4 linked regions of the Homo sapiens genome follow. The protein of the gene in region 2 interacts with the protein of the main gene of each other region in a biochemical or structural test. Each region holds a gene or a part of one and is shown on either strand. Other genes may lie near its edges. The genes, in order: RARA, TOP2B, RANBP2 and PIAS4.

The links.
Region 1: the proteins of TOP2B (region 2) and RARA form a complex in vitro, tested with the Homo sapiens proteins (one study listed by BioGRID).
Region 3: of the proteins of TOP2B (region 2) and RANBP2, one has a biochemical effect on the other in vitro, tested with the Homo sapiens proteins (one study listed by BioGRID).
Region 4: of the proteins of TOP2B (region 2) and PIAS4, one has a biochemical effect on the other in vitro, tested with the Homo sapiens proteins (one study listed by BioGRID).

What each region holds. Positions count from the first base shown.
Region 1 is NC_000017.11:40,314,136-40,321,385, forward strand, and holds part of RARA (retinoic acid receptor alpha), read left to right. Parts: intron 1-1,057; exon of another isoform or gene 1,058-4,616; intron 4,617-6,327; exon of another isoform or gene 6,328-7,250. UniProt on the Homo sapiens protein: Receptor for retinoic acid. Retinoic acid receptors bind as heterodimers to their target response elements in response to their ligands, all-trans or 9-cis retinoic acid, and regulate gene expression in various biological processes.
Region 2 is NC_000003.12:25,598,908-25,606,157, reverse strand, and holds part of TOP2B (DNA topoisomerase 2-beta), read left to right. Parts: intron 1-35; coding exon 36-115; intron 116-1,287; coding exon 1,288-1,398; intron 1,399-4,932; coding exon 4,933-5,058; intron 5,059-6,628; coding exon 6,629-6,723; intron 6,724-7,250. UniProt on the Homo sapiens protein: Key decatenating enzyme that alters DNA topology by binding to two double-stranded DNA molecules, generating a double-stranded break in one of the strands, passing the intact strand through the broken strand, and religating the broken strand.
Region 3 is NC_000002.12:108,715,905-108,723,658, forward strand, and holds the start of RANBP2 (E3 SUMO-protein ligase RanBP2), read left to right. Parts: upstream 1-3,577; 5' UTR 3,578-3,702; coding exon 3,703-3,774; intron 3,775-7,754. UniProt on the Homo sapiens protein: E3 SUMO-protein ligase which facilitates SUMO1 and SUMO2 conjugation by UBE2I. Involved in transport factor (Ran-GTP, karyopherin)-mediated protein import via the F-G repeat-containing domain which acts as a docking site for substrates.
Region 4 is NC_000019.10:4,012,235-4,019,484, forward strand, and holds part of PIAS4 (E3 SUMO-protein ligase PIAS4), read left to right. Parts: intron 1-688; coding exon 689-1,115; intron 1,116-7,250.

The sequences.
Region 1 (7,250 bases), on a different chromosome or scaffold from region 2:
AGAGGTAGGGAGGGAGGCAGGTGGGTGAGGGATATGGCGGGTGGAGGGGTGGGGTGGGGGTGGGGACGAGCTGGGGAAGGGATTGGGTGACAGCCCACCCCATCAGCTCTGGTAACTCAATCCCTGCACCCCACCCTCCCAATTTCCCTCCTGCTCAACAACTTCAGCAGCTGCTGGCAGAAGCAAGGCTGGCAGAAGTGTGTTTGAGTGCATGTGTATATGAGGGGAGAGGGTGAGAGGGGCTGTGGGGGCAGGGAGTGCTGCCAGGACATGTTAAAGGAGACTCACAGCCTGGGTACAACTTGGGTGGCAGGAGGAGGTGGGGCAGGTGGGAGAGTGGGTGGTGAGTGATGGGCAGGCTGCAGTGGGGGCAGGGCAGCACAGGGGTCTCACAAAACTTGTTGGCACTGGAGCGGGGCCTGGTGTGGTGGGGGTGGGCAGTGGTGAGGGGGCAGGGGCTGGCACAGACATTGCTGGCCCCAGAATGCTGAGGCCCATTCTTTGCCAGGGGGCGCATGTAACCATGGAGGGACAGTCTGCCCCTGTCTGCAATCCTTGGGCTGTGCCTGCTGGGCATCACAGTCTTGGTGGTGACTAAGTCACTTCTGTCCTGGGGCTGGCAAGGTGCCAGGCTCAGCTCTTCTCGGTAGGTGAGTCACTGCCCTGGCATCTCCCCCGGATGCAGCTGAGTCACCCAGCCATGCCTGCTAGGCAGGTGGGCACCAGGCTTGTGGTGGGGGTGGAGGGCTATGTGTGCAGCCCCCAGTGTCTTCTCTGATCTCTCTCTGGCATGTCCTGGCCCCACCCATAAACCTGCAGAGCCAGGCAAGGATGGCGCTTCTCCCTTGTGATCCACTAAGGGGTGAAGGAAAAGGTAGCAGGGCACAGAGTGGAGTCATACATGTTTGATTTGGAGTAAGTAGGGGAGGAAAGAGTTGAGGAGGGAACATTGATTGGGTTATATGTATATATATATATATATATATGCTTATATGTGTATATATATATATATATATATATATATATATATATATATACACACACACACACACACACACACGTATATATTTATTTATTTTAACAAAAAAGACACAGGGTCTTGCTATGTTGCCCAGACAGGTCTTGAACTCCTGGAGTCAAGCAACTCCTGGCGTCCCATCTTGGCCTCCCAAAGTGCTAGAATTAAAGGTGTGAGCCACCATACCTGGCCTGGGTTTGAATCCCAGCCCTGCCATTGACAAGCTGTATGACGTTGAGGAAGGCAATTTTCTTTTTGAGCCTCAGTTTTTTCATCTCTACAATGGCAACAGGAGCCTGCCCCTTCAGGACTGTGAGAATCAAATGGAGTGGGACTATTAAGGTACTTGTGGGAGGAGCTCCTTTTGGGATGAGCTAGGAGGCTTGGGAGGGGAAGAGGAGTCAGCTGGAGCTGGTTCCAACAAACTCCCGCACCATGGTCTTGGAGGGCCAATTGCTTCTCATCATCTCTTCGGAGTATCACTTAATGCTGTTCTTCAGGAGTTTCCACAGGCTGTGAGAAGACAGCCTTGTTGTACTAGAAGTGTGGGCCCTCCTAGGGTGTCTCAGAGCTATATTTTATCTCTTTTGACTACTGAGAACTGCCACTGGCCCTGGTACCTGTCCAGACTCTCTTCCTTCACTTCCTCTAGTTTGAAGAGGGATGGGGCTCAGACTCCTCCCCCAGCCTATCTCCTGTGTGCAGGGAAACAGTAGGCCCCAAGGAGTGTCCTTCTTAGAGTGAGGCGCCCCGAGCCTGTGGCTTTTCTCTCTCTGCTAGTTTCCTGCTGCTCCCTGGGTACCCTTCTCTCCTCCTGCATCAGAGTCCCTGGTGGGAGGGGGTGGTGGAAGCCCTGTTATGAGCCCAGCATAGCTGGAGTTCAACTGCTGCTGCAGATTGAAGACTCCTGGTCCCCCACCTGGGGACCTCTCCTGCCTTCTGCAGTCAAGCTTGGGTAGGGCTGGGCCTTGGACAGGTGGTACTGGTTTCCCTGGACAGGAAGGAAATGCCCCAAAGATGTGCATGCTTTGTGTTTGTACACACGGGTGCTGGTCTTGTTTGAGTGTCTGACCCCTGCGGGGGGTGGGTTTGTGTGTATGAATTTCTTCCCTCATCCACACATGGGGCTACTTCTGTGTCTGTGCAGAAGTGTGCCCCACCCTCTGCTTCATGCCCTTGTCTGTGCACAAATGTGTTTGGATGTACTTGTTCATGCGTGGATGTGCATACATGCGTCGGGGATGTACACATCCCTGCCCTGAATGTGCACGTGGAAATGCATTTGTACCAGGATGCCTGACCCTATGATGGCAGGTGTACCTGAAGGTCGTCCCACTTGGGAGGCAGTGTAGCTGTGTGCATGCATGCTTGCATTCTTGTGTCCATGAGCCTTCCCCTCCAGCCTCAAGGAAGGAAGACAGGTAGGATCTAGGTTGGGAGGTGTCCGTGGGCACTAGGGGCGGGCTGGCGCTGACTCCAGTCCTGGGCTGGTTCTCACCTGGGCAGAGCTCCCTGCTGTTGGCGGGGCTCAGGCTGGAAGGCCCTTGGGGGAGCGCGGCTGGGGGGTAAGGGGTTAAGCGGTGGCGTCCACATCTGGGAGCCATTGGCGCATTCCTGCCGGCTGAGCGCATGTTTGCGGATGAATCTGGACAGGACAGGGCGGGAGGGGCTGGGCGGGAGGTTCGCACCGGCGGACGGAAATCCAGACGGGAGCGGGAGACAGCTCCGGCCCAGCAGGCGGGAAGGGGCCTGGGGAAGCGCGGCCCAGCACTGCTGGGGCAGTTTCCCGTGCGCCGGCCCTCAGGGCAAAGGGTCCCGCCATCCTGGCTTGTCCTACCTTACCATGGCTCTTGGGCTAAAGCCAGGGACAATCAGATACTTCAATTCTAGACCCGGCTCTGCAACCGGTGCGACTGTGCACAAAACCCAGTGCCTGCTCTTGGACTCTCTTTCCTTGTTTGTAAAGCGGGGTCCGTCGGACCAGTGGGTTTGAGAGCTCTGCCACCGGGTCAGGCTGAGAGTCTCCTCACTGGGCTGGAGGCCTGGGAGTGCAGCACTTCCCCTTCCAGTGGGAAGTTCTGTGGGGGCACTTGTGGCCACTTCTCTGCCTGGGAACAGGGCGAGAGGGGAGTATTCTAAGCAATTCTGCTTCCCCCTAAGCCCGCCAGTGGACTGCTAGCGATGGGGACAGGATCCTCCCAAACAGAGCTGCAGGCTGGGAGGGGGGTCATGACTGTATTGGGGACTGGGGGTCTCTCAGATGGAGGGTGATTCAGATCCTGTCCAGCTGGAACATGAAAAAGAGCTTTCCTGGCTTCTCCAGACTTGTTCGGGAGAGAGAAGCTTGAGTGTGAGTCTTTGAGCACGGAGGGGTGCTCCTGGGCGCCCCTACTGGAAGATCCAAAAGTCTTGCCCTTTGAGGAGAAGAGTACTTTAAGGGGGCTGGGAGGGTTGGGTTGAGCCAGGGTTCCTAGGACCCACTGGAGCTGCAGAGGTGTTTGGGGAAAGAAGAGATATACTTGCGGGAGATCTACTCCTGGACTCTTTTTTTTTTTTTCTTTTTCTTGCAGCTGAGATAATTAAGATCCAGGGAAGGGAAGTGACTTGGTCAAGGTCACACAGCTCTCAGTTCCAGCTGGTCCCTAGAAGAGGATTATAATTATAGGATTCAGGGGCTTGACAGCTAGGGCAGGAGTCACCGCACTCACTTCCATATTACGCCGCCGCCTCACTTCTCAGATTTAGGTGTGGGTGTGTGTGTGGTTGGGGGGAAAGGAGTGTAGGATACCACACGCTGCGGTCTTCTCCACCGAGCGCTATTTTCATTCTTTCCGCAGAACCTCACCCCGTTCTTGCTCTGAATCTTCGGTTCTGGGTCTGAGGGAGGGATTCTCCCGGATTCCCACGGTCCAGTCTTCAACTAGGAGTGGCTCCTTTAAGACTCGCCCTTCCCGAGGTCTATTAAGGAGAGGCGGGGGCGGGCGTGAGCCTGTAGATCCGCCCCTGACTGGTGATTGGTCGGTGGGCGGGCAGGGGCGGGCCTGAGGGACAGGGCCTCCCCCTACCTCTGCTCCGTACCCTCCGCCCCTTCAGTCTGGGGCTCCGGGTAAAGTTTCAGCCTCCGCACGTGACTCGCTATGGCCGCTGCCATCGCCCCGCGCCCCTGAGCCGCGGCCCCCTGGACGGCTCCTCTCCCGGGACCCCGCACCCTGATGCCGAGCAGCACCAGGGCGCCGGGTTAGGGCAGACGCTGTGCTCGCTGGCACCCCGAACGGGTTGCTTCCCCCGCTGCGAGGTAATTCCTCCCCTGGGGATTTTGGGGAGCCCCTGGTTCCCGCAGGCGTCGGGGCCCCATGTCCTGCCCCAGATTGGTGCTGCGGGAGGGGACTGGGTACCGGGAGGCTTCCGACGGGAACCCGGGGTTTCCTGGGCTTCCCAACTCGCTGCCGCCGTGTCCAGGGTGGGGGAGCCCCGTCTGTGAGTCTGCCTGCGCCGTGTCTTCGCGCGCAGCCTTGAGGCGTCTGGGGCCGTCTGCTGCGCGTGTCCCCCGCGCTCGAGCTGTTGCAGAACCGCCGCTGGGAACTTCTGTTCTTTTTCTCTTTAATGATAAGCAAAACAAAAAGACTTGAATTCAAACCTGTTTGGGGAGAGATCGGATGCTCAACGGACTAGCCCCCTCTCTTTTTCCCTCCTGTTATCTGAGCTGCCCTGTGGTTTGGGGAGAATCAGCCAGGGGGCCCACTCCCACCAGAGGGAGCCGGCCGGGGGCCGGGCCGGTTCAGCTGGTGTCCCCCGTGGAGTGAGGGGAACCGTCAGAATTGGGTGCGGGAGCCAATGCAGTATGTGTGTAGGGGTGTTCCTGGGTCTTGTGCCACCATGGGGTGTGGGAACTTTTTGGGGTGAGGGGAAGACGGAATAGACTGACTTGTCGACTTTGCTCTGCTGAGGGTGTCTGGGACCTGGTGCCACCCACGAGGCTTGGAAGCTGCTGGCCAGATGTGTGTGTGAGCCTGTTGTGGGGTTGGGGGGACGGCTGGGAAATGAGCTTGGCTATGTCCCCTCATCTCCTCTCTGGGCACTGGCCTATTGTCAGGCTGCTCCTTGCGAAAGGAAAGACAGGCCTCCAGTGTGCTAGGGTGGGGATGGGGACCAACTAACCCGGAAACCAGACAGAAGAGCTCCCCAGCCTTGGAGATGTTTCTGCACCCTCCATCCTGTCTTGGATCAGATGCCCAGTGTGATGGCCTGGAAGGGTACCTCCTGCCCCCTCTGGCTCTGTCTTCTGTAACCAGGTTGCCTTCTGTCTGATGGCTGTGTGCACATATGTGTATGTAGATATTCTTGGAAAGGATTGTTTCTGAGAACACCCCCCGACCCCCCCACCCCCTGCTGCTTACCCCAAGGATCACTTCTGCCCCTGACACTCCCCCTCCTCAGTTTCCTGGCCAAGACATTCTGGGATGTCTCTTATACCCTTCTCTGGTTGCAGTCTTCATAGGGCAAGATTGTTTTGGGGGAAGTGGTTCTGTAAGGACCTTCCAGGTCTTGCTAGGAAATTGGACCTCAGGCCCCAAACTCTCCTACAGGGCTCCATGAAGAGGCTGTGCCGGGGAAGCCCCGGGTTGGAGTGGGGGTGGCTTGGAGCCTTGGGGCTTCCCCTGGAGGGGGCCGGGGGGGGCGGGTAGAGATGAGGCTGGGGGAAGGAACAAGAGAAAAAATATTTGGAGTTGGTTGTATGATGCTTCTTCCTGGAGGAATAAGAGGGGGTGGTTGTGGAGTCAGGGAGTTTGTGGCTGTGAAAAATGGTATGCTGGAGGGAGCTGGGACATCAGTACTGCCTGGGAGTCTGGACCATGTGGTGTCCTGAAAGAGAGGTCAGGAGGGTCAGACTGGAGTAGCCTCTTGGGAGCTGAGGATCTTGGATTTGCAAGGATTTTGAGGGTGTGATTGAGTGTATATGAGGTGTCACTGCAGGGGTTTCACCATCAGACTGGCGACGGTGGCACAGATGCAGTGGCAGTTCTGAGAAGATCCTGGGGTTGAAATGGCTTAATCCTGGCCACATCCTCCTTCCTATAGCCCCTAAATCTCTATCCCTTCAGTCTGACCCTAAATGCACCGGCTGCCACCCTGGGACACCTTTTTAGTCCCCTTCCTACTCCCAACCTTGAGGCAGCCTGGCAGGAAGCCAGCTGTGGGCAGCCCCATCCTGATCACCCATGTGCCTCCCCCGCTGGGCACAGTCACCCACACATGCCATGACGTGGTTCCTGCCACCCCATCTAAGTATGGGGGAGAGGACATTGTCTGAGTGGCCCCTCAGGTCTGTTTTGGGGACATTCACCCAGACCCCAGCTAATGCGCGCCCCTTCCCCTAAACCATTTAGTCTTGGAAGCTGACTCTGCCCTCTGGGACCTTTTCTTCCAGGCCACTCCTTGCTCAGACTCCAGTCTCAGGTGGGATGGTCCTCAGAACCGTGTGATGTGACGGTGGGGCCTGTCCCAAAATACAAACCCCAATGCCCAGTTTCCAGTCCTCTTGGAAGCATGGGCAGGACAGGACTTAGGCTAGGCTGGAGGGGTGGTTTCTTTTGACCTCTGTGGGGTCTATTAATATTTGGGAGCACTGCCTGGGATCTGGGGTGATAGGCATCTGGGGATGGTAATCCTGTCCCTGCGACAAATAAGCGGGGTAATCTCCGCTTGCTCAGTACCCACACCCATCTTGTGTCGGTAGTTTTGGGAGTGTGGGAAGCTGGCAGGGCCCCTGGCAAGATGACCAGTGTTGTCTTGACTTACTGGGTTTTGGGAAAGGAGTATGGCAACTGATACCCCGGCTCCCAGGGCTTTGGCTGAACATTCTCTCTGACGCCTGCTGTCTTTCCTCCCTCTACTCCCCTCTCCACCCTCTGGCTGCTGTCTGGAGCCCACACAGTTTGTGGGGGGATGCACGGTGGGGGGCAGGGCCTGGATCTCCGTGTGTGTCCAGGGAGTATTCTGGGAATTGGCAGGATTGGCTGAGGGTGTCTTGGTGTCCCCGCAGGGTGGGCGGCATGTGGGGACCTAGTGTGAGAATGTGTCAGCGTTGGTGTGTCTGTCCCCAGTCTGGCTCGGGTGTGGGTGTCTCGGGTGTGGGTGTCTCTTGCTTCGTCTGGATCTTGCCTCCCGCTCCAGTCCCGCCCTCCCCTCGCTCCCCCCTAGCTGGGACCGCCTGCTTGCTTTCCCTCTCTCC
Region 2 (7,250 bases):
TGTATCCTCTGTGGTGTTTATTTTCTTTCTAATAGAAAATCTTTGCATGACAAAAAAAGTCAGGATTTTGGAAATCTCTTCTCATTTCCTTCATATTCTCAGAAGTCAGAAGATGGTATGTTCATTTAGTCTTTTCATTGGTTATTGTATTATTGCTTTTAGTGGTGGAGAGAAAACAGTAAATAAATCGTTAGGTCATGATTTAACTTCAGAATTTTTAATGAGTAGAAAACTTCCTTTTTATATTTTGCTCAAGATAATAAGGCTTCTTTACTTTTTCTGAGGTGATTCCTAACTAATTGGTCAAAATAGGCATTATGGAAGCATTTAGGTGGACAGGCAAATGCTTATCTGTGTTTATGGGTGTGAGTGTATGTGTAGTGTTTTAATGAGAGAAAAGAAATAATGAAATTTTGAAAGCTTGAAATTTGATTTTCATGGCAATGTGAATGTATATACGACAGTTTTCTAAATCTGTAAGGGCACCAGTGTGATTGCAGATTGGTTGTTACCTGAGAGATTAAAACCGTCATAAGAACAAATTTAATCAGTGTGTATACTTCTTGTTTCGTATTTTTTTTGTGTATGGAATTTTTAAGGTCACTTAATTGATTCACTATCATTTTTTAATACACACATCTATACATTTAGACATATTTGGTACATATTCTATATGTATACGTACTCATTTTTGACAGTGTGTCAAAAGAGTTGTGTAAACATATTTATTTACATCCAAGTAGCTATTTTAAAAGTTTGTGCTATGGTGTTAGGGAAGAACGCATTACACTAATTTGAGTGCAAGAGTAAACTGAAGGTAAGCCTGTCTGCCTTTTAAATTAGTCTTCAAAAATTTATTTAAAAATAGGAATACTTACTATTCTTTTAGATTTAAACATTATTACTGATATTCCTGAAATGGTTAATAGTATTATTTGTGTAGGTACTAAAATAATACAGTGGGACATTTTCATATCTCATTTTAAAATAAATTGGCAGCATGTATTTTTGAATTGGTCAGTTATGTTTTAAATATTTAGCATTTGGGACTTTTAATTTTTACTACTTTATGCACTTCTGTGTTATTTCACCACATAGTTAACATTTTTGGTGTATAACTGATACATTTTATTTTTAGCTGTTTGTATATTGTGGATTATTTGGTCACAAAATAGTAACATAAGATCAATTGTCTAGCTAAAGGGAAGTCATCAGTTAAAAGAGTCAAAGTTTACTGAGAGATCTTTATAACATCTCTTTACTAAAAGAAGGCTTTGCAATTTTTAGATTCAGCTAAATTTGACAGTAATGAAGAAGATTCTGCTTCTGTTTTTTCACCATCATTTGGTCTGAAACAGACAGATAAAGTTCCAAGTAAAACGGTAGCTGCTAAAAAGGGTATGTACTTATATTTGATTGAGTTAAGCATTGGATAGAGATAGTTAATGTAAAAGGAAATGTAATTTAATTTGAAACTATTTGCATTTTTTTATCATAAAACAATTAAGAAGTATAAGTGCTTATAAGGAGAACCTCTCGTTTTCTAGCCATCTGAGGGCGTTAATAAAATTTCTGTAAGACTTAATTTTAAAGCTGTTGTAATTATAAAATAATCCCGTGCATTACTATCTAAAGATAGCTTTCTACAAAAGCTCCCTTGTGGTTAGGTTGTAATGGAGATTAAAATTTTGTCTTGCTAGTAGCTTGCTTCTGTTATCTATGTTGATCATGACTCAACTCCTTATGTGGAGGGATTGGTCAGCTCAGTTGAGGTCCTCTTTTTCTATGTGAGTCATGCAGCTTCTCTCTTTTTCACAGCCTTAGATTGGCCACAAAACACTTTGAGTTGATTAATGAATCTCTTACTAGTACCAAGATATATGTACCGTGGTCTTTTTGAAAGAGGTCAGTATTTGTGCTTTGTGTTTGAAGGATGACACTTAAAAAAAACCCCACAAATCTAATTGAGATGTGTGCTATTTAAGACAGCAAGTAAATAATATGGATTGTTCCCTCAAGGATTTTAAAAATTCACAACAGACAACATCATTACAGACACATGTATTGAATGTAGCAGAACAACAATTTTGAAAAGTCCTGCTTATTCTGAATGCAGTAGAACCATATTGAGAAACTGGTTATTTACAAGAGTCTCTGTAGCCAACACACTGGGTGACCTACCCATGTCCCTTACCACTTAGTGCATATTGGGCAATATCTGCCTTTCGTTGCCTGAGGACTTCCTCTTTGCCACTGTGCTGGAATATTAACACCCCCCTGCTCCCAGCTGCCTTTAACTAGCAGATTGAGGAAAGTTGGTCTATAAATATCTCAGTGTCCTTGCCTCTCATGTGAGCCAACTGTGGGATGTGTGTTTCACACTGGGACTCAAAAATTTCTTATGGAATTAAGCTCCTAGAGTGATGATTGGCTTGGTAACTTACCTATTACTGGCTGCCTTCTCTTCATTGTCTCATTTTTGTCTCCCCCTCCTTTATCTCTCAAATAAATACTTATACTTGAATCCATACTCTAGGATTAGGCAGATTGGCCCAAATCTGGGGAACCCACATTGAGATGGACCCTATAATTTCTCTTTTTTAAAAAAACAATCAGGCTGGGCGCAGTGGCTCACACCTGTAATCCCAGAACTCTGGGAGGTCGAGGCAGGCAGATTGCTTGAGGTCAAGAGTTTAAGACCAGCCTGGCCAACATGGCAAAACCCCATCTCTACTAAAAATACAAAAATTAGCCTGGTGTGGTGGCGTATGCATGCCTGTAGTCCCAGCTACTCAGGAAGCTGAGGCACAAGAATCGCTTGAACTTGGGAGGCAGAGGTTGCAGTGAGCTGAGATGGCACCACTGCACTCCAGCCTGGACGGTAGAGTGAGACTCCATCTCAAATAACAACAACAGAACAATCAAAAAGCACCTTTAAAAAATAATCTTCATATGAGCATCTTATAAACACCCTGAAAACTTGGGAGCCGTATTACTTCCTGAAACATACCCCGTTTCCTTCATCAAACTGTTCACCCATATTTAACCTAATGAGTTTAGCATGACCAAAAAGCTAGATTATCATGGTACCTATCCTACTTGCTTCCTTCTTCAGTAGCTGAACTGGCCTTGTCTAAGTTGAATAGGTAGACTGCCTGTGTGGTGTGATTTCAGGGACCCCAGCAAGTCCTCAGCTTTCCTTTAGCCTCCCTTACGAAATATAATTCCAATAAAATATCATTTCAAGAAGAGGATGCATCATATCCCTCTGTGGGATTGTCTATGTTAACTCCAAATTGCGTATGTTACACAAGTTAAATTCTGTAGTTCCAATAGTTTACAGCAGAAAGGCAGCTATAGTACTCAGATATCTGACCTGTTTGCCTGGTAGAATTGAAAGTGCCATGTAACTCCAAGCCAAGGAAAAAAAGTGGTTCCTAGAACACCTGGCTAAGTTTATACTCCCTGCTAGGAGCTGCCCTGTGGTTCTTGTGGTAGATATAGTCATGAAGACTCAGGTGGGAAAAGCCACACAATCTGGGTGCCACTTTCCTAGGGCTCCTCCTGCTCTTGGCTAACGAGGGGCCTTATTTGTAGTGTCTCAAATTGCGACTGGAATACATTTTCCATAGAATCAGTGTAGGTTTTTTTTTTTTTTTAAACAAAGTCTACAGTTAATATATTTTCTTCCAAATTAGGTTTTCTTAATTACAAAAAGTGATTTATCAGTTTTTTTTTTTTCTTTTTCTTTTTTTTTTTTTGAGACAGAGTCTTGCTCTGTCACCAAGGCTAGAGTGGAGTAGCGTGATCTTGGCTCACGGCAACCTCCCTTGCCTGGGTTCAAGCGATTCCTCTGCCTCATCCTCCCAAGTAGCTGCGACTACAGGCACACGCCACCTCACTGGGCTAATTTTTTGTATTTTTAGTAGAGATGGGGTTTCACCATGTTGGGCAGGCTGGTCTCGAACTCCTGACCTCCAGTGATCCGCCTGCCTTGGCCTCCCAAAGTTCTGGGATTACAGGTGTAAGCCACTGCAACTGGCCTTATTTATCAGTTTTCACATAGAACTGCAGATAAAGCTGTAAAACAAGGTCTATTTTTCAAAATTCCAGAAAGCAAAGGCCTGGTATCAATTGTCTACTTATCTAGGATTTTATATTTCTTTCCACATAAAAATGCCAAGTCTGGATTTCAGCTTTTGAATGGAAGTGAGTTGGTTTCTATTCATTGTATTCGAGGATCCCATACATTTTTTTCTCTAAAACATTCTAAAAGTTAGGACTTAATCTGTGGTTATATCTGGGTTATAATTAATTTATCAAATATGCTACTCTTTTGTCATGACTATTCTGTATTTAAAAGTTACTGCTTAATTTATTTTAATGGCTCTTCCTTAAAATGTCTTAATTGTATTACCTAAGGGCAAATTATACATAATTAAATAAAAAGCATTTTGTCATCTATGAGAAATTGTTTGCCTTTACATTGCCGCCAAGCAGAGAGAAACCATTTCATTATTTAAGGCGACTCAATTTTTTTTTTTGAAGATAGAGTTTTGCTCTTGTTGCTCAACTGGAGTGCAGTGGCGCAATCTCAGCTCACTGCGACCTCCCGGGTTCAAGCGATTGTCCTGCCTCAGCCTCCCAAGTAGCTGGGATTACAGGCATCTGCCACCACACCTGGCTAATTTTTTTATTTTTAGTAGAGATGGGGTTTTACCGTATTGGCCAGGCTGGTCTTGAACTGCTGACCTCAGGTGATCCACCCCGCCTTGGCCTCCCAGAGTGCTGGCATTACAGGTGTGAGCCACCACGCCCAGCCAGGCAACTCAGTTTCTAATCAGCTATAAGAAATTCCATTTATATAGGACTCTCTTCAGTTTGGTTTGTTGGTAAGTATATTGACCTGTGAAATGGAAATTTGCTTACTAGGAAAACCGTCTTCAGATACAGTCCCTAAGCCCAAGAGAGCCCCAAAACAGAAGAAAGTAGTAGAGGCTGTAAACTCTGACTCGGATTCAGAATTTGGCATTCCAAAGAAGACTACAACACCAAAAGGTGAGGATTATCTTCTTATAACCCTTTAAACATATGCTGTGTGGAAAAGATTGAATTTTTTCTACCTCATTGAATTTAGAGAGGCTAGGTATCTATTTTGTTTTAAATTGCTTTACTCCTCAGTAAGCAGTGTGTCTAGGAATCAGTGCTGAATATAGTCCAAAGGAGGCATAGCAATTTAGTTCAGTCACTTTGTTTTACAAATTAAAAAATTGAGGCTCAAAGAGGTTAAATAAGAATCCCTAAGAATGGTCCAAATTCTCCCCTGCAGCCAACTCACTGAAAGTTGTTATTAAAAAGTCAGATCAGTACTCCACACTAACTGTGACACTTATAGTAATGGGCTAGATCCAGGACTCTTAGGCTAGAACTTTTTTTCTCACCTAAGAAATAACTGTATTCAGGGCCACACAAGGAACAGCACCAGTTCTCCATGGCATCCCCTCTTTAACTCCAGAATCTGGAAAGCCCTTGAAGATGTTTTGTAAAATATGTTTGTAAGACATGATATGAGGGTAGCTCATGCTGTGAGGGTAGCTGCTCTACCTTTTATTCAACTGAAGGATATCTTCCTCAGTGTGTTTCTTATATTTCTTTAAGGAGTGGTTGGGATAAGGAGCTGTAGACCTACAGGGAAATGGGGATAATAGGGTGGAAAAGAATCACAGTGACTGGGAAAGTAGTACTCAAGATATGCAGGATTGAAAGCCTTTATAAATTCAAAAATGCTATTTCCCTGATTCATTTGATCAAATATGACATCCCAAGATTATTTAAGTCTATCTTCGTACTTGTCCAGTCTAGCTGTCAAGGGATTTTAAAGATATAAAATTGCTATTTAGTTGTTTTATTTCATTGGCATCATTGTGGGATGGAGAACATCTGGCCCCTACTTAAATATTACCTTTTCTCCTTCCACCTCCAATGATGAGAATAAGAGGTTAGGTAGGTGAAAAAAAATGCTGCATGTGCTGAGTCTAGGTCTGAGAAGGAATATGTATTTGACATTTTATAGTTAATACTGGTGGTTCTCATATGGTGCCACTTAATGTGGGATATGCAATTGGTTGTTACTAGTCTTTGATAAGTAAAACGGAGTAAACATTTAGACCTTTATAATAATGTGTTACTAAAACAGCATGTGATTACATTTTTTAGTAATTTGTGTTCTATGGTATTTTTAAAAGTATTGGCCCATGACAAATTAGAAATGAAAAAAAATATTTAAATCCCATGTAATTTAAGAAGTACTCTTCCAAGATATTTCCTTTTCAGGCTCAAGGACCAAATAGCAAATACAAATGTTTTATGTATGAAGGGATTCATCATTAAAATTTGTCTTTGGGACTTTCCCACTAGTTTAAATGTATTTGTCAAAAAGTCTTTGGTCATGTCAACCCCAGAATTGAAATGCTACTGCCAAATTGTTTATAATCACTCATAGTAAGAGATCAGGACTGCAATGCTCCACTGATTGGGCATGCCAAAGAAATAAACTACAATGTTGTGGCATTTATCTTTTTATATTGCACTTAACCACGGAAGAAAAAACCTTTTGTATCATTTTAAGGTAAAGGCCGAGGGGCAAAGAAAAGGAAAGCATCTGGCTCTGAAAATGAAGGCGATTATAACCCTGGCAGGAAAACATCCAAAACAACAAGCAAGGTAACCGGGAACATCATTGCATATTAGTGCATGGCTTTTTAAAAAAAGATCTGTAAGTGACTTAGTTTGCTTATGACTATAGTCCTGGAACAGCTTTCCACCTAGCATCTCGTATCAATATGGGGCTTGTATTTGGTTAAGAAATTATTCAAGTATAAATTTATATAATCAGGACTATTTCCTAAATAACTGTGCTATAAATTAACCTACTTAGAACCTTCCATTTCATCCACTGAACTGTAGTAGTGTTATGCTACCTAAATATTAGACTCTTTCAGACTAAAATATTATTTTTCAGACTAAAGACTGTTTCCTTTTAACTTGGATTTATTTGACCAGGGCTAATTTGATTTTTTTTTTAATTGAATTCATTTGACTGTGGCTGATTTTTCCAATTAGTCTGACCCTTTTCCAGAAGTACACTATTTCTTTTAGGTAAATGAATGACATCAGCTCCCCCGCATCCCTTTTTATGTTGATTTCCACATTGACCTCTTCCATTCAGTCATCTTCTATGTCTCAGGTCC
Region 3 (7,754 bases), on a different chromosome or scaffold from region 2:
TCTTTGGATGCTGGGCGCGGTGGATGCCGGGCACCTGTATCCGAGCACTTTGGGAGGCCGAGGCAGATGGATCACTGGAGGCCAGGAGTTCAAGACCAGCCTGTCCAACACGGTGAAACCCCGTCTCTACTAAAAATACAACAATAACCCGGGTGTGATGGCATGTACCTGTAATCCCAGCTACTCAGGAGGCTGAGGCACAAGAATTGCTTGAACCTGGGAGGCAGAGGTTGCAGTGAGCCGAGATTGTGCCACTGCAGTCCAACCTGGACCACAGAGTGAAACTCCGTCTCAAAAAAAAAAAAAAAAGAAAGAAGGAAAAAGAAGGTTCTCTCTTTGGGCACTCCTTTTCGATATATTCAACATAAATGGATTAATGATACCATTTTTACTAGGTGAGTATGTTTGGGCAAGTTGCTTCAGTGCTCATTCTCTTGGTTTCCTTTTTTTTTTTTTTTTTTTGGAGACAGGGTCTTTCTCTGTCACCTAAGCTGGAGTGCAGTGGAGTGAACATAGCTCACTGCAGCCTCCAACACCTAGCCTCAAGAGATCCTCCTGCTTCAGTCTCCCAAATAGCTGGGACTACTGGCAGGCACCACCATGCCTGGCTAGTTTTTAATTTCTTTTTTTTTGTAAGCACAGGGTGTTGCTATGTTGCCCAGGCAGGTCTTGAACTACTGGGCTCAAGTGATCCTCCCACCTCAGCCTCCCAAAGTTTTGGATTACAGGCATGAGCCATGGTGCCTGGCTGTCTTTTGCTTTCCTTATCTGTAAAAACTGAGGATAATAACAGTACCCTTACAAAGTTGGTGGAAGAATGATATTAATACAAATGAAGTGCTAACAGAAAGAGCTTTGGAACACAGCAAGTACTTGTTAGCTATGGCTATTGTTATCAACACACTTTTCAAGGCAAACTTGTGGTTTCACCTATCACCTGAGATATATGACTTTTAAGTCCATCAGATCTTCTCTTTTGGTTTTTATTTTTAAATTAATTAAATATTATTATTATTATTATTTTGAGACAGAGTCTGCTCTGTTGCCCAGGCTAGAGTGCACTGGCACGATCTCAGCTCACTGCAACCTCCACCTCCCAGGTTCAAGCAATTCAGGTGCCTCAGCCATCCAAAGAAGCTGGGATTACAGGCATGCACCACCATACCCAGTTAATTTTTGCATTTTTAGTAGAGATAGGGTTTCAACACGTTGGCCAGGCTGGCCTTGAACTCCTGGCCTCAAGCAATCAGCCCATCTGGGCCTCCCAGTGTGCTGGGATTACAGGCGTGAGCCATCGTGCCTGGCCCTCTTTTCGTTTTAGAGATAGGAATCTCATTCTCTTCCACAGGCTGGAGTGCAAAGGCATGAACATAACTCATTGCAGTCTCCAATCCTGGGCTAAAGGGATGTTTCCCCCTCTGCCTTTGGAGTAGCTGGGCCTCAGAACTGTGCCGCAACTACTGACTTCCATCAAGATCTCTGTCCTACCATTTCATCTTCCTACTAGGCTATCCCCACATGGATATATAAATGGTACCTCAAGTGAAAGAAATCAACTACCTAAAATAGGATTTTCCACTCCAAACTAGATTTTCTTTACATGTCATTTCTGTTAATGTGGGTCACACACACTGGTAAGCTCAGAATCATCTTTTTCTTTTCTTTTATTCACATCCAATATTGTTGAAATAAAACAAAATGCTGTTTTTCCTTTTTTAGAAAGGCAATACTTGTTCATTATATCAAAATTTAGAAAATATGGAAAAACAAAAAGGATAAAAAATTATCCACAACCAAAATAGCCCAAATTTCCAGTTAAAAATGTCAACGCATTTGATATTTGTCCACATAATTCAGACTGTAATGTTTACACAAATGTGAGCTTTTAAAATCTAAAAGGTTCTCACTATTAAAAATGTTTTGTTAAATTTTGTTTTAAAAGTAAGATTTTAATATCCAAATTCCCAAAATAGACATTTTTGAAGATTTGGAAAATACAGACGGCTCAAAATCTTTACATTATTACTGTTAAATTTTGGTATGTTCTGTTATTCTGCTAGTGAAATATATATAGATTTGGGGGGGCTATTCCTTTTCCTTTTTTTTTTTTTTTTTGAGACAAGGGTCTCACTCTGGTGCCCAGGATGGAATGCAGTGGCGCTATCACAGTTCATTGTAACCTGGAACTCCTGGACTCGAGGGATCCTCCCGCCTCGACCTCCCAAAGTGCTGGGGCTACCAGCTTAAGCCACTGTGCCAGGCGAATGGCTATTCCTATATACACAGTTGACCCTTGAATAACATGGGTTTGAACTGCCTGGGCCCGCTTATAAGCCGACAGAAAATACAGTATTGGAGGGGCCTGCATATAGAGAGGTCTGACTTTTCCTCTAAGTGTTCCACCCGCAGGACTGACTGCGGGATTTGAGAATGCGCGGACTTCTTCTTCTTCTTTTTTTTTTTAGGAAGTCTTACTCTCGCCCAGGCTTGAGTGCAGTGGCGCGATCTCAGCTCACTGTAACCCTCGCCTCTCAGTTTCAAGCGATTCTCGTGCCTCAGCCTCCCGAGTAGCTGGGATTATAGGGGCCCACCTCCACGCCCAGGTAATTTTTTGTATTTTTAGTAGAGATGGGCTTTCGCCATGTTGGCCAGGCTGGTTTCGAACTCCTGACCTCAGGTGATCCGCCCGCCTCGGCCTCCCAAAGTGCTGGGATTACAGGCGTGAACCACAGCGCCCGGCGGAATGCGTGGATTTTGGCATAAGACGGTGGTTCTGGAACCAATCCCCCGCCGAGATGACTGTTTAAAAAATTGTAATTGTCCAAAACTTAATATTTGTGGTCTTTTTCATTATGCAGTTCTAAATCTCCCTTTTTTTTTTTTTTTAAATTCAGACGGAGTCTCCCTCTGTCGCCCAGACGGCGCAATCTCGGCTCACTGCAACCTCCGCCTCCCGGGTTCAAGCGATTCTCCTGCCTTAGCCTCCGGAGTAGCTGGGACTACAGGCGTCCGACACCACGGCCGGCTAATTTTTTGTATTTTTGGTAGAGATGGGGTTTCCCTGTGCTAGCCAGGATGGTCTCGATTTCCTGACCTCATGATCCGCCCGCCGTGGCCTCTCAAAGTGCTGGGATTACAGGCGTGAGCCACCACGCCTGGCCCTCATTTAATAAGATATGAATTTAAAAATGTATGCTTTAGTATTCACACATGTCCGATGCAACGTATTTAACCAGTCATCTCCAGAAACTTTGTTCCAATTTACACGTTCACCAAATTGGCCTGAGTGCTTTTTTTCTTCCAATGCATTGCGCACTTATAATTTAGAACAAGTGACCAAAACGCTTAAGAGCCCATCACGCAAATTGTTATCTGCTGGAAATCTACGCCCTAGGCTGTGGACACTGGCGGCCGAAATCTGATCCCGGCTTGCCAAGACACCCTCAGAGCACGCGGCGCTGCCAAGAGCCTGGCCGAGTGCAGCTCGAGCGCCGACGTCGCCAACGTGGCGCACACTGCTGACGCAGTACGCAAGTTCGTCACAGTGGTCCTCCGCCGGCTGCGCCGCAAGTTCGTCACAGTGGTCCTCCGCCGGCTACGGCGCTGCGTCACTGGTTTGCAGGCGCTTTCCTCTTGGAAGTGGCGACTGCTGCGGGCCTGAGCGCTGGTCTCACGCGCCTCGGGAGCCAGGTTGGCGGCGCGATGAGGCGCAGCAAGGCTGACGTGGAGCGGTACATCGCCTCGGTGCAGGGCTCCACCCCGTCGCCTCGACAGGTGAGTGGGTCTCGAAGAGACCGACGGCCTCGACCTGGCCGGGCGGCGGCCTCGCGCTGCTCAGGCGTCATGGCTCCCGACGGGCGCTGCTCCCTGGCGCGCTCTGTTGAGGCGCCGGCCGGCTGGCGCAGTCCTGTGGGCGGCGTGGCGCTTGCAAGCGCATGAAGAGTCCTGGGGGGACAGCGGTGGGCGGGAGACCTTTGGCGCCGGCGCTTCCTCTTTCTCCCGGCTTGTTCCCGACGCTTGTTCCCGACGGTGCTCGCTCCTGGGGCCGCCCTGGCCCGGGCTTTCTGGCCGATCGCGCACCCCGTAGTACCCGCGCGGCCTAGTTCTCGGGGGCTTGGGCACCCGGGTGCTGTATCGGCGGGTTTCTTCCCATCTCCTGGACATATACTTTATATGCTGCGGCGGAGGTCGTACCTCCTTGGCCTGGAGGAACCCAGTGGGGACTGACGCAGCTCCGGGTGAGCTTTGGCGGCTGCGTCGAGTGACAAGGTAGGCATCTCAGCGCGGACATTTGCAATGGCCCGACGGCGCAAATGACACTGAAAGTCCCCTTGTTTTGAGTATGAGGTGTTTGTCGCTGTCCCTTTGTAAGGGTCCAGCTCCACTCCGCTCCTCATACTCACCTCCCTCGCCCCCCTCCCCGCCCGGAACACTTTGGTAGCTGCCTTTGCTTAAAAAAAAAAAATTCTAAAGTTCTTACAAATCGTTAGTATGGCTTGCAATTTTTAACCTTTTCCACAAATGTTTTAAGGGTATTTTTCCTCTTTACATGTAAATAATGTGATCTATTTTGGATTCAATAAGACTTTAGTAATTGGATCTAAAGAGTGACGGAAGAAGCTATTAAAGGTGGATGTGCGCAGAATCTTGAGTCAGTTTGCTTTGGCTTGAATAATCACAGCACTGTCGTTTATAAGCTGGGTATTTGGGGCCAGTTACACTTTTCATCCATAGATGGAGTTGTAACATTAATAGAATTTGATAGGATGATCCATTTTAAACATTTAGGGTATTGCTTGACACATAGCACTAAATGTTAGCTACAAGTCACTTTTTATTGTTGATGTTAAAAGGATATTGGCGGGGCGCAGTGGCTCACGCCTGTAATCCCACCACTTTGGGAGGCCGAGGAGGGCGGATTGCCTGAGGTCAGGAGTTCGTGACCAGCCTGGCTAACATGTTGATACCTCGTCTCTACTAAAAATACAAAAAAAGTTAGCCGGGCGTGGTGGCGCATGCCTGTAGTCCCAGCTACCCGGGAGGCTGAGGCAGGAGAGTCGCTTGAACCCGGGAGGCGGAGGTTCCAGTGAGCCGAGATCGCGCTACTGCACTCCAGCCTGGGCGACAGAGGGAGACTCCAAAAAAACAAAAACAAAAACAAAAAAAACCCGGAAACTCACGGATGACCATGATTATAATAGTAGCATAATTGTGTCTCTTATCGTAACTAAGCATAGGTTATCTTATTTTGCGCTTCCAGCAGCCCTGTGGATATTGAGACCTGTAGAGATTTAAGATACTTGTTCAGGGTCAAATAGATAGTGCAGCAGAATTTTGGCAGTGGGTCTGATTTAGTTTCTCTTGGGAACAGTGGAGTAAGTTACAGTCTATTCCTCCAGAGGAGGAGGATAGATATCTACTTGTACATTGTAATTTCAAACTGCTAGCATAGTATAAATATGAATGTGATGATAGAGTCTAAAACAGACCTTAATTGAGGGTTCCTGTAACTCCTGAAATTAAAGACTTTAATTTTTGTGTTATTTTATTTTTTTTGAGGTGGGGTCTCACTCTGTCACCCAGCTGGATGCAGTGGCGCTATCTCGACTCACTGCACCTTCCGCCTCCCCAGCTCAAGCGATGCTCCCACCTCAGTCTCCCGAGTAGTTGGGACCACAGGTGTACCCACCACACCCGCTGTTTTGTTTTGTTTTGTATTTTTGGTAGAGACTGGGTTTCACCATGTTGCCCAGGCTGTTCTTGAACTCCTGGGCTCAAGTGATTTCCCCGCCTCCACTTCCCAAAGTGTTGGGATTATAGGCGTGAGCCACTGCACCGGCCATTATTTTATTTTTGAGACAAGGTCTCTTTCTGTCTCCCAGGCTGGAGTGCTGTGGCGGGATCGTGGCTCACTGCAGCGTTGACGTCCTGGGCTCAATCCATCCTCCCACCTTAGCCTCCTGGGTAGCTGAGACTACAGGCATGTGCCACCATGCCCGGCTTTTTTCTTTAATGTAGAGACGGGGTCTTATCATGTTACCCAGGCTGGTCTCCAACTCCTGGGCTCAAGTGATCCTCCCGCCTTGGCCCCAAGTGCTGAGATTACAGGTGTGAGCCACTCTGCTCAGCCTGATTTTTTTTTTTTTAAACAAGCTTAAAAAAAAAAAAAAGCAAGCTTAGAGCCTTTCTGAGATTCTTAGTGGGGACCTTGGCTTCCAAAAGATTAAAAACCACTGGTCTAGACAGAAGTTAGAATGTTCTTTCAACTACATAACTTCTCCATTAAATAAAGTGGAGTGGTGGCAGAATTTTGAGGATTGGTTATTATGACACCTCTCTTACACTTAGAGTCTTTTTTTTCCCCCAAATTTAAAGTCATTTACATTAGAACCTGGGGATTTCAGCGGAATATGGATTAACTAGTGAGTAACTTTGGAACATGTGAAGCTATTCTGTAAAGTTAGGTTTGAGTGAAATGACAAAACAGGGTGCTTTGGATAGAAGGTAAAGAATGGAGGGAGAAGAGGCAGTGGCTGTGAAGAATATGAAGAGGTTAGTATTCTCCCCCAGTTTGGCAGAGGCTGGCCATCTGTGAACTGCCCATGCTTTCTAGAATGTCGGAGTTTTGGAGTGTGATGATGCGTCTGTATATCATATCTTTCTAGTCTTTCATTGTGCTTTCATTTGTTAGTCTTCTCTTGTTTTGCCATTTTTCTACTCCCTCACATGTGCTTTTGCCCTTAAAAATATTCTTCGTCTGTAATCTGAGCACTTTGGGAGGCCGAGAGACCAGCCTGACCAATATGGTGAAAATCCGTCTCTATTAAAAATACAAAAATGAGCCGGGCGTGGTGGCAGCGCCTGTAGTCCCACCTACTCGGTAGGCTGAGACAGGAGAATTGCTTGAACCCTGGAGGCAGAGGTTGTGGTGAGCAGAGATTGCACCACTGCACTCCAGCCTGTGTGACAGAGCGAGACTCTGTCTCCAAAAAAGAAAAAAAGAAAAAAAAATATAATTCTTTCTCTAGTTTTTCTTTTTCCAGATGGCTTCTGTTTAGTTTTTCTATGTTCTGTCAAGTTGATTTCTTATTCTGCAGCTGATTCCTACTTCTCAAAGTCTACTTGACAGCTCTTATTTTTATTTATTTGTTTTTTAGAATAGGGTCTTGCTGTGTTGCCCAGGCTGCCATCAAATTTTTGGGCGTAAATGATCCACCTACCTCTGTTTCCTGAGTACTTAGGACTACAGGCAGGCACCTTTGACAGCTGTTAGTTGTTTTTTCTGCCCTTTACAGCTATACTTCATACTTCTGAGTAACACACATATATACTTTTGTTATTTTTAATTTCCTTTCTCCCATTTTAGACATTTTCTTTTCTTTTTTTTTTTTTTGAGACGGAGACTCGCTCTATCGTCCAGGCTGGAGTGCAGTGGCGCGATCTCGGCTCACTGCAAACTCTGCCTCCCGGGTTCACACCATTCTCCTGCCCCAGCCTGTAGCTGGGACTACAGGCACCCGCCACCACACCCGGCTAATTTTTTAGTATTTTTAGTAGAGACGGGGTTTCACCGTGTTAGCCAGGATAGTCTCGATCTCCTGACCTCATGATCCGCCCGCCTCAGCCTCCCAAAGTGCCGGGGTTACAGGCGTGAGCCACCGCGCCGGGCCCCATTTTAGACATTCTGTACTGGTTATTATGCTCCTCCAAAACTGTCCTCAGACACTTTGGTTTGCCCCTCATTCTTTCAGTAC
Region 4 (7,250 bases), on a different chromosome or scaffold from region 2:
TGTGGCAGCAAGAACCGCCCCTGGCTTCAGAGCCAGGCCTGGGTTCGAATCTTGGCGCTGCCACCTCTGAGCCGACAGTTCCTCATTTGTGACAGAGCTCACACACCAGCCTAGCAGGGGTGTTTTAAGGATCAGAGTTAAATATATAATCACATGACCGGCTTGGTTCCCGGCAGGTGATTAGTACTAAGTAAACTGTGGCTACCGTTGGCGAGACCGAAGGGAAAACATATCTGTGGCTGACATGGGTTGAGCGCCCGCCCAGCCAGTGCTTTATGTCATTATCCTCCCGACGTAGAGACTGAGGGTCAGAGAGGCATTTGGTGTTTGCCGGTAAGGCACTGGCAGAGGCTGTTTACAAGTAAAGCACAATTGTCAGTTCCTGCCCTGGGGATGCTTTCAGGCTGAAGACAGGGAAAGAGAACCTAAAATAGAAGGGGGGGCCTAGTCAGAGGCGCTTTTGCTGCGTTGGCGATGCTGGGGAAAGTTTGATGAGGAGGAGGGAGGGGGCAGGGCTTTGCTGGGAGGGGGCACCGTAGGGGCAGGGCACTCCACCAGCCCCAGCCAAGGCTGGCGCTTCCTGGCGAGTGGGTGTCTTTCACGGCCCCCACATCGGGGCCTGGCCTCCATGGAGTCCCCTGCCTCGCAGCTGTGTCCTCTGAGTGTGTGTGTGCTTGCTCCTCCTCAGAACATGGTGATGAGTTTTCGAGTCTCCGACCTTCAGATGCTCCTGGGTTTCGTGGGCCGGAGTAAGAGTGGACTGAAGCACGAGCTCGTCACCAGGGCCCTCCAGCTGGTGCAGTTTGACTGTAGCCCTGAGCTGTTCAAGAAGATCAAGGAGCTGTACGAGACCCGCTACGCCAAGAAGAACTCGGAGCCTGCCCCACAGCCGCACCGGCCCCTGGACCCCCTGACCATGCACTCCACCTACGACCGGGCCGGCGCTGTGCCCAGGACTCCGCTGGCAGGCCCCAATATTGACTACCCCGTGCTCTACGGAAAGTACTTAAACGGACTGGGACGGTTGCCCGCCAAGACCCTCAAGCCAGAAGTCCGCCTGGTGAAGCTGCCGTTCTTTAATATGCTGGATGAGCTGCTGAAGCCCACCGAATTAGGTGAGTGGTCACCCTGGGGAGGCTGCGACTGGAGGCTTCACCTAGGCCCCGTCGCCCAGCCCAGCCCAGCCACACAGCCGACTTCGAGTGATGTTCTCTGTGGCGCAGCCAGGGCGGGGAGCCACAGTGGCCAGGGGTGTCCTTCCTCGGAAGCAAAGGGACCATCTTTGATATTGGTCACCCCTTGCTGTGTTACAAGTTACCCCGAAATGGAGCCACTGGAAGCAGGGGGCGTCTGTTAGCTCTCAGGAACCTGTGAGCTGTGTTGCGGGGCATTGGGGCTTGGGGGCTCTCATGAGGCTCAGTCAGGCTGGAGCCACCTCATCTGGAGGCTCGACCAGGGCTGGAGCAGGCACATCCTTGTGTGGTGGCTGGCAGGCCTCAGCTCCTCGCCAGCTCTTGGCCACAGTCCCCAGGTCCTCATGGTGCGGACTCCTGCACGGATTGCCTGGGCGTCCTCAGCCTGGTGGCTCCCTCACCCTAGGGTAGCGAGTGTGCACCTCCAAGCTGGGAGCTGGAGCCCTTTTTATAACCCAACCTCGGACACGCCTCGCCATCTCCCCCACAGAGTCCGTTGCTCACACAGACTCTGTGGCGCATGCAGGGACCACACCAGGCTGTGACTGCCAGGGCCAGGGGTGACCAGGGCCACCTGGGAGCCTGGTTTCCCTGCTTATTCCCCTTGGAAAGGGGGCTGGCCAGTGGCATCCTTCCCCCGGGCTCTGGTTCCTCGCTGGCAGCCTGCAGGAGTGTCCTTGGTCAGTGGGCTCAGGTCACTGCCAGGCTGTGTGCACCGGGCGTGCTGGGGGTTCAGGGCGATCCCAGGCGGAGGAGAGGTGCTGGGCTCCACGCTTCTCTCTCTCGTGTCTTTGTCTGCAAGCACTGACTGAGCAGGAACTGTGTGTCAGGACCTCATAGCCCACAGCAGTGTGGACAGGCCCCTGGTGCCTCCCCAGCAGCCGTGGCCATTCAGGCTGCAGGTGGGCATTGAGCCCAGTCTCTGCCTCAGCCATAGCCCTGAGCTCAGGGCCAGGGAGGCCTCCGCAGCCCCAGCCCCCAGGGCAGAGAGAGTGTGCAGCCTCTGGGACTCCCAGATAGGGAGCGGAACGTCCTGGGCCTTTGCGGACCTGTGCCTTGAGGCGCTCAGATTTCACCAAGTCCTCTGTGTGCCTGGAGGTCTCTCCGTCTCTTCTTCCTGCCTCCCCTCCCCTGCCCCCACTCTTTCCTTCGCACAGTAAACATCGGAGCGCCTGCTGGGTGGGTGCGTGATGGGCACCAGGCGTGGGCACGCAGCAGGGAACAGGACCAAGGCCACGAGGTTCAGAACCCTGTGCATGCCCCCTCCCACCCTGCTGACCCAGCAACCTGCCTGGCCCCTGCTGTGGCCTGAGGGCCCTTCTCTGGCACGCTTCAGTCCATTGGGTGCCAGCTGGCCCCCGCTCCCCTGCCCAGGGAGGCAGCGTTGATGGGGGTAGGGGGAAGGGGAACTGGCTGCTTTTCCCCTCCCATCTGCAGCCCTGGGACTTAGTGAGGTTAGGCTGGAGGGGCTGTGCTTCCAGGTGAGGATGGAGGAAGTGGAGGAGGGAGGAAGGTGCTGTCGGTGGTTCCTGCGGCAGCCGAGGCTCCTCCCTCCAGCCTGAGGCTCCGCCTTCCAAGTGAGGCTCCGCCTCCACCTTTTTTCTCTTGCAGGAGGTGTCTAGCAGCAGCCTCCTGGGGAGCAGGTTGGCCCAGTGGCACCTGTCCTGGGGGACTCAGGGTCTTGGCCTGAGTTCCATCGGACTGACTTTCCCAGCCTTTGCTCTCTCATGAGGGAAGCTGTTCCCCCTGCCAGGTTCTTGGGCAGAGCTGGCTGTCTCTGAAGGTTGGGCCTTGGGAAGGACCTGCATCACAGGGAGGCTGGGCTTTCCTGGGAGCGGCAGGGCAGGCTTGGTCCAGGGCGGGGGACGGGGCTGACCAGCTTCCTTCCTGCACGGGGACCAGTAGCTCCGTCCCACAATACATCGCTGTGCCCTGAGCCACCAGGGACCCCGGTCACCTGATCTCCGGGAGAGCCTGCTCCCCTGTCTACACCAGTGTGCCTGTGCTGGCGGCTCAGAACAAAGAGGCCATCCCCACCCTGCCTCTCTCTCCCACTGGCTCTCTCTCCATCTCAGGCCGCCAGGTGAACCTCCTTTCCTGGATTCCGTGCTCTTGGGGGACTCCCTGGGGGCCACCTCGGTCCTCAGAAGTTTCCTGGAGCATAGCCCCTGGCCCCGAAGCAGTGGTCCCCATGGTTTTAGGACCTGAGATGCCATCTGTCCGCCCTGACCCTGGGCTGTGTCCCTCCCCAGGGTGCACTCTGTGGTGCTGGCCTTGCCCGGGGGCCGCCTCCGGAGGACCCAGTTCCACCGGCTTCTCCCTCACTCCCTCCTCTGGCTGTGACCCACCGTCCAGCGTGAGGCCCACCGCTCTGGTCTGTTTCCCCGGAATAGCCGCCGGCCGGCTCCAGGATGGAGACCGCGCCAGGCGGACAGGAGCCATAAATCACGCGGTGCGGAATGCTGGGCTGGGGGAGGGGGTGACAGAGCCACAGAGCAGGCTGCAGGGGCCTCAGGCTGTAGGTGATCGGCTCCAGTGGGAGGTGCCGTGTGTGGGGACGGGGCTGGCACCCAGAACAGTGCGGAGAACGGCCCAAGGTCGCACAGCGGCCTGCCTTCCCTCCTCCCGAGCCGACTGGCTCCTGCTCCTGAGCAGAGGCTCTGGCCTGGACCTCTGCAGGCTGGGAACCCTGTCCTGCCTGTCGGCAAGGAAGCCGGCGCCACCCCTTTCCAGCCTGCGCCACCTGGGGAGTCCGGCTAGGGAGCCTGACCCTCCTGTCAGGGTACTTGGGAAGAGAGGCTGTCAGGAAATGTGGGGCAGAAGGAAGGATACATGCTGGCCGGGCACAGAGCTGCTCCTCCAGGGTCTTGGCCCGCAGCGGGCACCCCGAGGAATCTGCCTGCCCACCCGCCTGCTGTGCAGAGTGGAGCCCCTGTCACCACGACTCCAGATGCCCCCAGAGGCAGATAGCCCTGGTACCAGCCAAGAGCCGCCGGTCTGGCATGTGCTGTGCTGTGTGTAGGCACCTGTGCCCTTCAGCCTCTGAAGCCCTTGGGCCAGCATTGCCCAGGCCACAGCAAGGTAGCGTGGTCCCTGCTCAGGTGCAGCACAGAAGTGCCAGGTGATAAGTCTCATGGCACACGGAGGGCTTTCAGGGGCAGCTGTCAGTAGCAGGAGCCATTTACTCTACATTTGTGAGGAGGTAGCAGTCAGGAAGGCCTCCTGGAGGCAGCAGCGTTTCAGTCCAGACCCGAGGGTGACTCTCAAGAAGCCAGGCAGAGAGGAGGGGGCAGGGGAGCGTATTCCAGGCAGAGGGCAGTGAGGGCAGAGGCCGATGGCCAGAGAGGGCTCATTCATGGGGCTGAATGGAGTTCATTGTGGCCAGAACATGGTGCGCCCAGGAGGAGGGACGCAGTAGCCTGGGCGCGGGCGGCAGAGGCTGGAACCCGAGAATGGTGGGCCCGGGGAAGGCTGGGGGCTACCCTGCTTGCCCCGAGGGCTTCAGCGCCCCTGAGGTTCTGGTATGATTTTTGGGGTCAGTGAGGAAACTGAAGTGCAGGAGGCAAGTGGCCGTCTGCCTTCCACAGCCAGGCCTGCTGCCCGCCCAGGCCCACCATCTGTCCGTCTGCACACTGGGGGCCTGGATGGGCACGGAGCGTCCTGTGTCACTGTCCCACATGTGGGGTAGTCTGACCCACTCAGCCCGCTGGCACTTCCCATACCTGTGGTTGGGGAACAGGGGGACTCCGCCAGCTCTGCCCCAGGTCTTGGCCTTCAGGTTGAAGAGGAGGGATGGGCCCACTGCTACCAGATGGGGGGCTGCCAGCAGCCACCCCCATGTCCCGCTAGTCCTTCTCCCATCCCCTGTGGCCCCCTGCCCTGCCCAGCCCAGCTCCCCAACCTGCCCGCTGGCTGCAGCCTCCTGCTCTGCTTCCTGCCCACTGGTCCCCCTCCCATGGCAGCCTGTGAATGTTTTCACTGATGGGTAGAGTGGTCGGCATCACCCCTGTGCCTAGCCAGGGGCACCTGTTCCCCGCCCCTCCAGGACAGTGCCCCCTGTGTCCCTCATACCTGACTGTGCTGCCTCTACTCTTGATCTGGGGGACCTGGGTTGGGGAATCAGTGCTGGTAGCTCTTAGCTGGACAGGGTGGGTCCGGGAGTTAGAGAACTTGTATGTGCCGGGGAGGGGACAGCCTGGGGAGGGGGCCAGCACATGGGCCAGCTGGAGGGGGAATGGTCCCATCCGATCAGCTTTTTTTTTTTTTTTTTTTGAGATGGAGTCTGACTGTCGCCCGTGCTGGAGTGCAGTGGCGCGATCTTGGCTTACTACAGCCTCCTGGCTTCAAGCGATTCTCCTGCCTCAGCCTCCCAAGTAACTGAGATTACAGGCACGCACCACCACACCCAGCTAATTTTATGTACTTTTAGTAGAGACGAGGTTTCACCATCTTGACCAGGCTAGTCTTGAACTCCTGACTTCAGGTGATCCACCTACCTTGGCCTCCCAAAGTGCTGGGGTTACAGGCGTGAGCCACTGCGCCCAGTCTCATTTTTTGTATTTTTAATGGAGACGGGGTTTCGTCATGTTGACCAGGCTTGTCTTGAATTCCTAACCTCAAGTGATCCACCTGCCTCGGCCTCCCAAAGTGCTGGGATTATAGGCGTGAGCCACCAGGCCCGGCCCCAGTCAGCCTTTTAAAAACTCCCTGTGTTTCATTTCTATTTAAACTTGTACAATTATGCGCTTGTCCTAGAAAACTGGAGTCAACAGCAGAGCAGTCCGGCCGGCGCCCTGCTGCCCGAGTGGGCCGCCTCGGTACACCGGGCCGGTGCTTGCCGCCTTCTCCCTTTGCATGTGTGATTGTAGGAATGTGTGGCTGTGTCCTGGCTGCTATTTTATAACCACCCCCCATACTGTGAGCATCTGCTCACAGCGTTAAATATTCATCGTCAGCAGCATCTCGTGAGGCTCCCTGGCAGCCTTGGGTGGAGCCAACGGCTGGGCCCTTCTTGTTGGGCTCTCGGATCGGGCCCAGGGGCTGCTTTTCGTGCCCGGGCCGGAGGGCCTGGCTGAGCACCTCACCCCAGAACCGGCTCTGCCTGGCAGGGCCCCCGTGGTCACCTGATCTTGCACCTGGCCCCAAAGGTGCATCTGGTTCAGTGGTGCCCTTGCCTTGGTCCCGTGGCCTTGGATGCTGGGCAGCCCACGAAACCATCTCCCCCTTGGGGAACTTCATGCTTCAGTGGCCCAACAAGAAGGAGCAGCAGAGTGATGTAGGGAAACTGAGTCGCTCCTTAGGAGGAGAAGGTTTGGAGAAAAGTGAGGTGGCGGGGGGTGCGGTTTTTAAATGGGGTGCTCAGCGAAGGCTTTCCTTCTGGTGACATTTGTACAAAGACAAATATAGGGCCATGAGGCTGGTCGGGGGAGGAAGGTTCCAGAAGAGGGAATGGCAGGTGCGGAGGCCCTGATGCAGCATGGCTGGTGGGGCCCAAGCAGGAGGCCAGGGTGGTGGCCGTGTGTGCGCCGGGGTGTGTGTGGCCCTGAGCAGGGGTACTGAGGGTCAGGGGTCTCCTGCGGAGCCATCCCAGGGGGCGGGCTCTGGCTGCTGAGACCGGCAGAGCTGGGGGCAGTCGTCTGCACCGGGCGGGATTTGAAAACAGAGCTGACAGGACTGGCTGAGGGAGTGGATGTTTGCAGGACAGCAGAGACGGGGGCTTCATGGATGCCACCTGGGTTTCTGGCCCCAAACAGCTGACCCCGAGGGCAGAAGGGCAGGTTTGAGGGAGACCCCACAGCCCCTTCCCCAGCATAGGGGGGCCGGGTGTTTGGGGGGAACCGTCAGCGGCCCGGGGCCAGTGGCACAGCAGTGAGAGCACAGGGCACCTCCCAGGCCCCCAGCAGAGAAGCACAGCCCGGTCTCCCCCAGAGGGAGGAGCCCTCCCAGGGCAGGGACCCCAGAGTCTTGTTCTTCAATGACTGGGCCCTGTCTGCCCCAGGCATGGGCTGGCAACAATCCCTGGCCAGCTGGGTGGCTCCCTTGCTGCCTGCTGGGGAC